Linked DNA regions of Homo sapiens: region 2 is linked to region 1. The links come from fine-mapping of genetic effects on gene expression. Tissue or cell type: whole blood. Region 1 holds a variant in brackets; the other region holds the start of a gene. All regions are shown on one strand. Distances are between the middles of the regions.

Region 1 (5,266 bases):
AAGCAGAGCAGGTATTCTTACCTTAATTCCGTGTATATGGAACCCAACACTGAGACAAATTAAGTGACTTAATCATTCACCCACCGTTCACCAATGATGCTATGAATTTTCACACCTCTGAGGCTGGGCCTGTACTCACTCTTCTGCCTACCATGCCTCTCCTCTTCTTCAGAGGTCAGCTCAAATGTCACATTCTCTGTGAAATGCCTTCCCACTTCAGCCCGTGAACTACTCTTGCTGCATAGACCTCCCACAGTCTAGTCTCCTATTATAACATAGCTAGTCAGGGGTGCCCTGGACTCTAAGAGAGAAACACCCAGGTTTGAATGTCTAGTCCTCCCTTTGCTAACAGATGACCTTAGACAAGTTCCAACTCCATGCAGGCACTGTGCTTTCTTGAGTAAAATGAGGATATTTCTAACATTTATTGAGCATCAAAATATGTCAGGCACTTTACAAATTAGCTCATTTATTCCTCCTCAGAGCCCTAGAAAGAGGTGTTATGCTCAGTTTTATAGATTTCTCAGGCATGGACAAGTTTTGACCTCAGGCTATCTGACTCTAACAGATGGGAACTTCTTTCTAGATTATCCTCTGCCTTTTAAACTGGAATGATTATTTTGTGATCCTGGCCGCCCTGAGTTTAAATGCCCTGAGAGGCTTAAATGAGGTAAGTATGTTCAGCTTTGTGGCTCAGTAGTTGGGTAGATCTCCTTCTTTCTCTGCCCCATCACACAGTCTTATTGATTGTCAGCCACTAGAGTGGCCTATGAAAGCACAGACTCATAGGAGTCCTTGATATGCATCACAGATGTGCACCACAGAGATGCAATATTCAAGTCAACTCATGACTTACCTGGGAAAATGCTGGCCCTTTATCTTTTTAAACACATACAGACACAAGAGTACACAACTACACGCATACTGAAAAATGCACAAAACATAAGGATTCAGCTTAAATAATTGTTGTAAAGTAGAAATACATCTGTGTAACTACCTCTCGGGTCAAGAAATAGCTCATCACCAGCACCCAGAAGCCACCTCACACTCCTTCCCAATCACAGCCTCTATCCTCTCTTCTATCAAGCGTAACCACTACCTTGAATTTTATGGAAATCACAGCTTTACTTTTCTTTATAGTTTACCACCTAATAGGCATCCCTAAACACTTAGCATTATTGAACTTTTATATCGGTGGAGTCATACAACATGTGCTCTTCTGTGTCAGGCTTTTTCACCCAACATTGGGTTTGTGAGAGCCACCCATATTCTGTGTGATGGTAGCTTGGTTTTTTCATTGCTGTATAGTATTCCACTGGACAAATACACCACAATTTATTTATCTGTTCTATTATTGCTAGGTATAGAGATTGTTCTAATCTGGGTTGCTATGAATAGCAGTGTTTTGAAGACCTCTAGTCTACTGAATCTAGTGGTCTTTCTCACTATTCTAGAGGTGCTTTCTAACACTCTACTGTCCAGAAGCAATGCTTCCCCTACACACACACACTACCCCACCCCCACCGCCTTGTCTGCTGTCCAGCTTGGAAATGTTAAAACATTACCGTACAAGCTGGGAACCACAAGCTATTGAAGAAATTGGAGGTCAAAGATTTTCCGAAGACCTCCCTTCCTTTCTGCCTCAGATTTGACTTCTGATAACAATAGCGATAACAAAAACAGCAAAAAGAATACTTAAAAGTGTAATGAGAATTCTTATCCATTTACTCCAGGTCTGGTGCGTGGGAAATGGGGGAGAAGGTGCTGAGCTTACTGATATTGCCGGTAAGGCTGGGCCCAGGCTCTTAAAAGCCTCAAGCAGGGAAAGGGGTCCCACGTCTGCACAGGGGAGGTGACTAGAGAAGTGGCTGGCAGCACCCCCTGCTGTCTGCGCTTCTGCTTCTATGCAGGACCTGATCTATAGCCAGTTTTCAGATAATTTGGAGAGAAGGATGGTGAGGCCTGCAGCAAAGTGGCTTATTCTAACCACAGGCCCCCAAGCTGGCTGGGCTGGCCAGGCCATCAGCTTGCTTCATTGACCTGGCTCAGAGAAAGTGGGGCTGGGTGAGCTGAAGGTAGGGCCTCCTTTCCTGCTTATGCCAAAAGGTGCCTAAGTGAACTTTGCCCCAGTGGAGAGACTGTATCTGACCTAATGGGCTTCTCACTAAACATGCGGGTGTGAGTAGAGTAAGACTTCCCTGCAGGGTCCAAGCCAGCTTATGAGGCTCCCTCCTCAACCCAGGGCTTCCCAGCTCATCTGACACAGAAACCATCCCAGAAACCAGCTGCTACAGTTTATCTTGAACTTCCATTGTTACAATGTGCTGGACTTAAATTTTTTCAAAAATAGGCCGTTGTCAGGAACACAACTGGTACC[G/A]TGTTTCAGGAGGGCACTTTGGTAATAAGAATCAGAAGCCTGGAAAATGTCCTTTCCCTTTAACCCAGCAATGCCACTTCTAAGAAGCCATCCTAAGGAAATAATCAGACAATAGACACAAGAATATGCACCACAGTATTGTTTATAATATGGAAAACCTGGAAACAACCCAGACGGCCACAATAAGGAACCAGTTAAATAAATCTCTGTACTTCCTTATAGGAATGTTATTAAAGAATGTTTAATAGGCTGGAATGTTTACTCTACAATTTAAAAAAATTACAAAATGATATTTAATGATATGATTCCAAAGGAGCAAAGAGCCTGAAAGAATACATATCTTCATAGAAATATCTCTACAGATTAATATGTAGTTATAAGATTGGTATATACAATAAGTAATTTTTTTTTTTTTGAGGCAGAGTCTTGCTCTTTCACCAGGCTGGAGTGCAGTGGCACGATCTCAACTCATTGCAAACTCCGCCTCCCAGGTTCAAGCAATTCTAATGCCTCAGCCTCCCGAGTACCTGGGACTATAGGCGCATGCCACCACGCCCGGCTAATTTTTGTGTTTTTAGTAGAGACAGGGTTTCACCATGTTGGCAGGCTGGTCTCGAACTCCTGACCTCAAGTGATCCGCCCACCTCAGCCTCCCAAAGTGCTGGGATTACAGGTGTGAGCCACCGCACTCAGCCTATATATAATATTTTGAAAATTTTATTTATTTTATTATATTTTATTTTATTTTTTGAGATGGAGTCTCAGTCTGTCACCCAGGCTGGAGTGCAGTGATGTGATCTCGGCTCACTGCAACTTCTGCCTCCCAGGTTCAAACGATTCTCCTGCCCTCAGCCTCCTGTGTAGCTGGGACTAAGGCACCCGCCACCATGCCCGGCTAATTTTTGTGGGGTTTTTTGAGACAGAGTTTCGCTCTTGTTGCCCAGGCTGGAGTGCAATGGCGTGATCTCGGCTCACTGCAACCTCTGCCTCCCAGGTTCAAGCAATTCTCCTGCCTCAGCCTCCCGAGTAGCTGGGATTACAGGCATATGCCACCATGCCTGGCTAATTTTGTATTTTTAGTAGAGATGGGGTTTCTCCATGTTGGTCAGGCTGGTCTTGCACTCCCAACCTCAGGTGATCCTCCCGCCTCGGCCTCCCAAAGTGCTGGGATTACAGGCGTGAGCCACCGTGCCCAGCTGTTTTCCTGACTCTTACAGCTGAAGAAAGAGGCTCAAAATGGTTAAATCTGAAACTCTATCACTATTTTCTGGAATGCAAAATGGATCATCAGCATAAAGGGTCGTGTCCTTGACTGACGCCCTAGATCACTTTGTACAGTCAGTTCTCGGTCCCACAGGAGATTAGATTTGGAAGAAATTGTCAAGATGATGGTTTTCAACTCCCTCACAGTCCAAGAGTTCCCTTTGCTCCATGCCCAGATGTGGCCCTGCAGCTGCTTCTTGCACATGCCCAGCGACAGGGTCCCTGCTTCAGTTCATGGAGCTGAAATCTGCCCATGTACAACTTGAATTCCCTCGCCCCAGTTTCTCTTCTGTGTCCAAGTCCTATGGGTGGATCCTGGCAAACCCAGCAGGGTATGTGCCATCACGATGAAGGAAAAAGGAGTTAGGCCAGAGGTTGGATCAAGGATCAGGGTTTAAAAAAAAAAAAAAAAGTATCAGGGTTGAAAACCAGCTTCCAGATCTCAAACAGAAAATGAATCAGGTGGGCCAGGCATGGTGGCTCATGCCTGTAATCCCAGCACTTTGGGAAGCCAAGGCGGATCACGAGGTCAGGAGCTCAAAACCAGCCTGGCCAACATGGTGAAAACTCGTCTGTACCAAAAATACAAAAATTAGCCGAGCATGGTGGTGTGCGCCTGTAGTCCCAGCTACTAGGGAGACTGAGGCAGGAGAATCACTTGAATCCAGGAGGCAGAGGTTGCAGTGAGCCAAGATCGTGCCACTGCACTCCAGACTGGGCGACACAGTGAGACTCCATCTAAAAAAAAAAAAAAGAGCCAAGTGTGGTTGCTCACGCCTGTAATCCCAGCACTTTGGGTGGCTGATGCAGGTGGATCATGCAGTCAGGAGTTCAAGACCAGCCTGGCTAATATGGTGAAACCCTGTCTCTAATAAAAATACAAAAATTAGCTGGGCGTGGTGGCGCACACCTGTAGTCCCAGCTGCTCGGGAGGCTGAGGCAGGAGAATCACTTGAACCTGGGAGGTGGAGGTTGCAGTGACCTGAGATTGTGCCACTGCACTCCAGCCTGGACAACAGAGTGAGACTCTGTCTCAAAAAAAAAAGAAAATGAGTCAGGTGAACTAGAGATTGAAGAAATTACACACACACGCACACACACACACAGCAGTCTACAACTGGCCTGTGCGTTAGGGCAAGGATACTGGTGTTGGACTCCATCCAACATGTAGCCCTGAGTAATATAGTCTAGGTACTTGCTTGAATGGGACATGGGGAAGCCTTCAGGGGTACTGGAAATGCTCTGTATCTTGATCTGGGTGGCAGTAACAGAGGGATTTACATATGCAAAAGTTCACCAAACAACATATTTTAGACTGGTGTTCTGCACTGAATTTACAGTAAATACATATTTTAAAAGTCTAAAACAAAATAAAAATGATTCAAGAAAAAGAGGCACAGTTGCTGGAATGTGTGAGGGGTGAGAGGGGACGGGCTGCAGCGCAGAGGTTGGTTGGGTGGCTGCAGGAGCACATGGAGTGTCTTTTTTTTTTTTTTTTTTTTTTTTTTGAGACAGAGTCTTTCTGTGTCACCCAGGCTGGAGTGCAGTGGTGCAATCTTGGCTCACTGCAACCTCTGCCTCCCGGGTTCAAGCGATTCTCCTGCCTCAGCCTCCCGAGTAGCTGGG
Region 2 (5,000 bases), 300 kb after region 1:
AAAGTCACTAGCAGAGGTTAAAGACTGAGAATATTTTCTAACACTCAGTGGAATATAAGTATCTTCAAATAGTTGAAAACCCACAATACAGAAGAGACAGTGAGGACACAATTTCTAGTTCAGTGAAAGAAATAATTTTATAAAAATTAGAGTTGTCCAAACATGGCGAGGTGTGTGCCTATAACCCCAGCTACTTGGGAGGGTGAGGTGGGAGGATCACTTGAGCCCAGGAGTTCCAGACAAGCCTGAGCAACATAGAGAAACCCTGTCTCAAAAAAAAAAAAAAAAAGAATTGATCAAATATCTTTGCCTCAGAAACTATGACACTATAAATAGTCTCTCCAAAAAATATACAAATATGCATAATTTTGCATAATATTTCCAAGAGTTCACAAGCCTACTTTCATATCTATTCATGCCGCACACCTAGAGTCATGTATCCCAGATTAAAACGGAAAGGATTTAAGTATGAAGAGGTGAGTGTATTTGATTCTCTTTAAAATCCACTACAATTTAAAATTCTATGATCTAAAAGAACTCTCAATCTATGCCTTCTAGTTTCTTCTGAGATCCATTATAACACATATTGCAATAAGAGTTTAAAAGATGATGACAAGGAAGTACATCCCACTTCATCAGTTATATTGAGGGCACACGGCTCAGACAGTTAAGAATTTTAGCTGCCAGAGAAAAACTTCCATGTGCCACTTGGACTACACATTCACAAGAGTCAGGGTGGGAGGAATTACATGATCACAAAATGAGAATATGAAGTATTACACACTGCAAAAATTCAGCTTTCCTTTTTAAACACCTAGAAATGAAGAGAACTGAAAAGTAAGAGTTTAGTAAGTCTTGAACCTTTTATTAACAAATGTAAGGGCCACAGTGCTCAAACTGCAACTGCACAGCCAGAACAACGCTACAGACACCATGTCTACTCTTAGACTAGACTAGTTACAGGCACAAGATGTTCTAATAAATAACAAACACATCCAGAGCCAGTACACAAGTGTGACAGAATCTGGGGTCTAGGCATTTGATTTTTCTCCTGGTGCTGTCTGAGAATGGACACTGCCATTAAAGATTAATTACAGTAATCTGATAGTGATAAAGTTTAGCTAAATAACAGGCTAAACAATGAAATGGAAAAGGAAGCTGCAATATAGATCAATTAAACTATTTTTATATCTACTTTTAAAGAGAGACAGGGACATGATTATGCCATATAGAAAATAGATGAATATATATTCACGAGCTGAAAAAAAAAACAGGTAAATTATTTATTAGGTGAAGATAAATTCAAGCCATGAAGAGAAAACACATGGCCCAGAAAAAAAAAAAAGTAGGTTGTGCAAGTCAAATGAAAAGACACAAAACTCAGATCTCGGGGAGACAGGGGAAGGAGAAGGCTGAGCTAAAAGAGAGCCTTACTGAAAGAAAGCAAATAAGTGAGAGGGAGTCTGTGCCCTCTGAGATGGAATGAGGAAAAGATAAAAGTATTCATGGGCTCAAAGGCAGCTTCAGCAGTGAATATGGAAAAGGAATGAGCCCGTTCACTGTCTCAACACTAAAAGGGAAATAATATAGGGTCTTTTTCTAAACCAGCATCCATGGCAGTCAATAATAAAAGTGCCTAACTAATGCAAGGCATTTAATACGTGGAGGATTTTCTTACGATTGCATTCCATACATTAGTCCATTCACTCCCCGAAACACACCGAATAGGTGGATGCATCTAATTTACAGATGAAGAAACCGAGATCACACAATGGGAGATAGCACAGGCTGGTAAGAGAGACTGGGGCGCTCATCCACTTCGTTGTACTGTCTCTCAGCGAGATCCTAGGAAAACCCTTACACTTCTTTGTGAAGACAGACCTTGGCTTTCCAGATTTTCTCAAAGGAGTCTGGGCCCAAAAAGCGATCCTCTACTTCAGAGAAAAGTTCCTTTATGGGGCATATGAGGTTCTTCCAAGCACACAAAGCTTAGAAACTCTTTAAAAACAAACAAAACACCTGGTGGACACAGAGGCCTGTGAGTCATGAAAGGAGAAGGGAAAAATCGGAAAACCAGATTTAGAAGCCATCCTTCTTTGAAGAGAACGAGAAAGTAGAAAGCAGCCCTTCCCCTCTTCCACGAGGCGTGACTCAGGGACGTTACCTCCCCCGATTTGCTCTATGCACTAAGAGGGTGACCCTCCTCTGCTTTCGACTCTGGCCCAGACACTCACGGGTTACCCGGCCAGGCCTGGAGAACCCAGGTCTAAACAGATGGGACTCGTGGGGGAACAAGGGGGCCCCTGTGCGCAGGGAGGGAAACCTACCCAGGAACGCGCCCGGCCGGGTCCAAAGGCCCTCCGCGCGCGGGCCCGCGCCCTCGCCCCAGACCTTACCGCCTTCGGCTGCAGAAGAACTGGCGGCCAAGCGAGGCTGTCGGGCCGAGCCAGGAGCGCGTCTTCGGGCGCCGCCGCTTCTGTGGCGCCCGCGCTTAGGCGGCGGCCGGGTCCCGGTGGACTCACACCCGGGGAGACGCGGCCTGCCCGGTCAAGGCCCAGGAGTTTGAGGCCCCAGAACGCCAACCGTGCGCGCGCCCTCGAGCCTGCCCAAAGATGAAGGGTCAGGGCGCGCCCCGCGGGCCGGGCAGCTGCGGCAGCGCCGCAGCCGAGATCGCTACCGATTTCGTCCGCCCTCTCCCTGCCCAGCTACAGCCCCGCTTCCCCCGCGCGAGCTTTGGCGGCGGAGCAGCACAGTGCGCGCCGATTGGCCCTCAGAATGTGCGACGCCTGGCGCCGCTCCCCACGGATTGGCCGGGCCGGCAGTGCGTGCACGGAGTAAACAAACCCCGCCCCCAGGCTTCCCTTTGAGAGTAGGGGGCCAACAGATGGAGGGGCGGGACTCGTGCACTCAGCCACCGCCCCTTGGTTCCCCCTGTGGCCTCCCTGGGAGCCCTCCGCAGGACCCGACCACCCCGCTTCCCCGCCGCCTCCAGGGACAGCTGCGGGCCTGAGGCCTAGAATTTTAGACACACTTCCTTCATCACTCCTATCTCATCCCCCCTACTCCCACCCTGCGACTTGGGTGGGAATCTCTTTTCCAACTGACCCCGAAGCCAGAAAACCCCAGCTCTCTTGGAAGGAGGGGGACTGGGGCAGTTCCATTCGGTCCCCAGGCCTTTGCGGGGTCGCCCTGGGGGAGCATCAATAAGGGACAGGGGGGCGAGTGATCGTGATTGAGGCTATGCGTGGGGCCAACTGTGGGACACCTTGAAATTATTCAGACAATGAGTTAGAGACCACTGGGAATGTGGAGGTTCTTCAATATCAAGGCAAGTTAATACCCAAACCAGGACAGGTCATTCTGTCCCGCGGAAACTGCACACACCCCAAATACCCGTACACTTGGTTCCATATGAAAAGATTTTGTTCATTCGTTCGTGCCGAAGTTAAAAACCCCGTGTGAACAGCGCATTAAAACGATTAGATCTTTCTCATTTTACTCCAGTCAAATCTTATAGATCTTCTATATGCCACTTTGTTTGTTTTTGAGACGGGGTCTTGCTCTCACCGAGGCTGGAGTGCGGTGGCAGGATCACGGCTCATTGGAGCCCTGACTTCCCAGTCTCAGGTGATCCTACCACCACAGCCTCCCGAGTAGCTGGGACTACAGGCCCGCGCCACCACACCCGGCTGTTTCGCCATGTTTCCCAGGCTGGTTTGGAACTCCTGGACTCAAGAGATCCTCCCGCCTGGGCCTCCCAAAGTGGTGGGATTACAGGCGTGAGCCACCACGCCCGGCCCCAAACACTATTCTTGATATGGGGAGACATCAGTGGACAAAATAGAGACAAAAACTCCTGCCTTCATGGAGCTTACATTCTAGCAGGATGGGAAAGATAATATGCAAAAGAATACGTAAAACAAAAACTATATTACATGCTGGTATGTGTGCTATGGGAAAAAAATATAAGCAGAGGTGTTGGAGGAATGGCTTCAGTCCTAAATAGAGTGATCTGGGAAGGTAGCACGGAGAAGGTGGTATTTAAGCAAATGCCTAAAGGAGATGAGATAGGTAAGAGAGCACTTTCAGATCTTTCTCTGGGGCAGGGTGGAGAGACAATTGTATGCATAATTGCATGTAACTAGTCCTGAGAGTCCAAGAATGTCAAATGCAGTACTCCACTGACTGATTCTAAAATGCAAAAACCCCAGTGATTACTTCACATTCTCCAGTAACAAATCAATAAAAATTTAGTTTCCACAAAAAATATAACTTTAAGAAAACTTAAAGTTATATTCAACAAATACTTTTCACTCTAGGTACTACGTATACAAAAATGAGCAAGACAGACAAAACATCCACCCTCAAGGAACTCAGTGTAGCAGAGGAAATGGATTGTAAACCACCTCAATTCAATGCGTAAATAACCATGATGGAAGTACACACACAAAGTGCTTGGGCTAATGTAGGGAAAGGGGTCGCTGTCATAGAGGAGCTGTAACTATCTTAGGATCTCTTTATCTATAAAAGATAGTACTAAAAGATTCAGTACTAAATTTGGAGTGAAGTTATGGCTATGAGGGATTCCCTAACCTCTTTATAGGTCAGAGTCTGAAGATACTAGGTTGAACCACATGAAATTGCTGATATTGGGCAATTTTCATATGGTTCAACTTACTCTCTTGCAGAGGTAGTATGAGGATTTTGCTATGTAATGCATGTAGTAAGTGTTCAATAAATGATGGCAATTATTATATTCATCGTATAATATAGCTTTTGAAAATAAAGATTTAAAAGTCAATGTTTTATAACACCTTCCAACGCCATTACATAAAATGGGCAGTGAAAGTTTCAAATTTTCCATATCCTAGTTTGATTTAGTTGTGAATTTCCATGACCTAATCAGGGCATGTTGTAAAAGACAGTAAATGTTAGTTTCACAGCAGGCCAAGAAATTCAGAATAAGGAGGAACAGCTTGGTTTTTAAGCCAAAAACTGAG

Evidence for each region. PIP is the estimated chance that this variant, and not a neighbour inherited with it, causes the effect.
Region 2: TFDP2 starts here. The variant in region 1 is fine-mapped to the expression of TFDP2 in whole blood (TOPMed, PIP 0.98).

Annotation. Positions count from the first base shown.
Region 1 is chr3:141,843,728-141,848,993 of GRCh38, forward strand. No RefSeq gene overlaps it. Among named protein-coding and RNA genes, the nearest start is that of ATP1B3, 30 kb to the right of the region's middle. RefSeq lists a cis regulatory region at 4,981-5,125. The variant G/A (reference allele first, on the strand shown) is at 2,378.
Region 2 is chr3:142,146,787-142,151,786 of GRCh38, forward strand. It overlaps TFDP2 (transcription factor Dp-2), which reads right to left and starts at 2,758. Exons shown (of 13, transcript NM_001178139.2): 1 at 2,397-2,758. RefSeq lists silencers at 2,254-2,303, 2,534-2,603, 2,664-2,873, 2,984-3,033 and an enhancer at 2,403-2,903.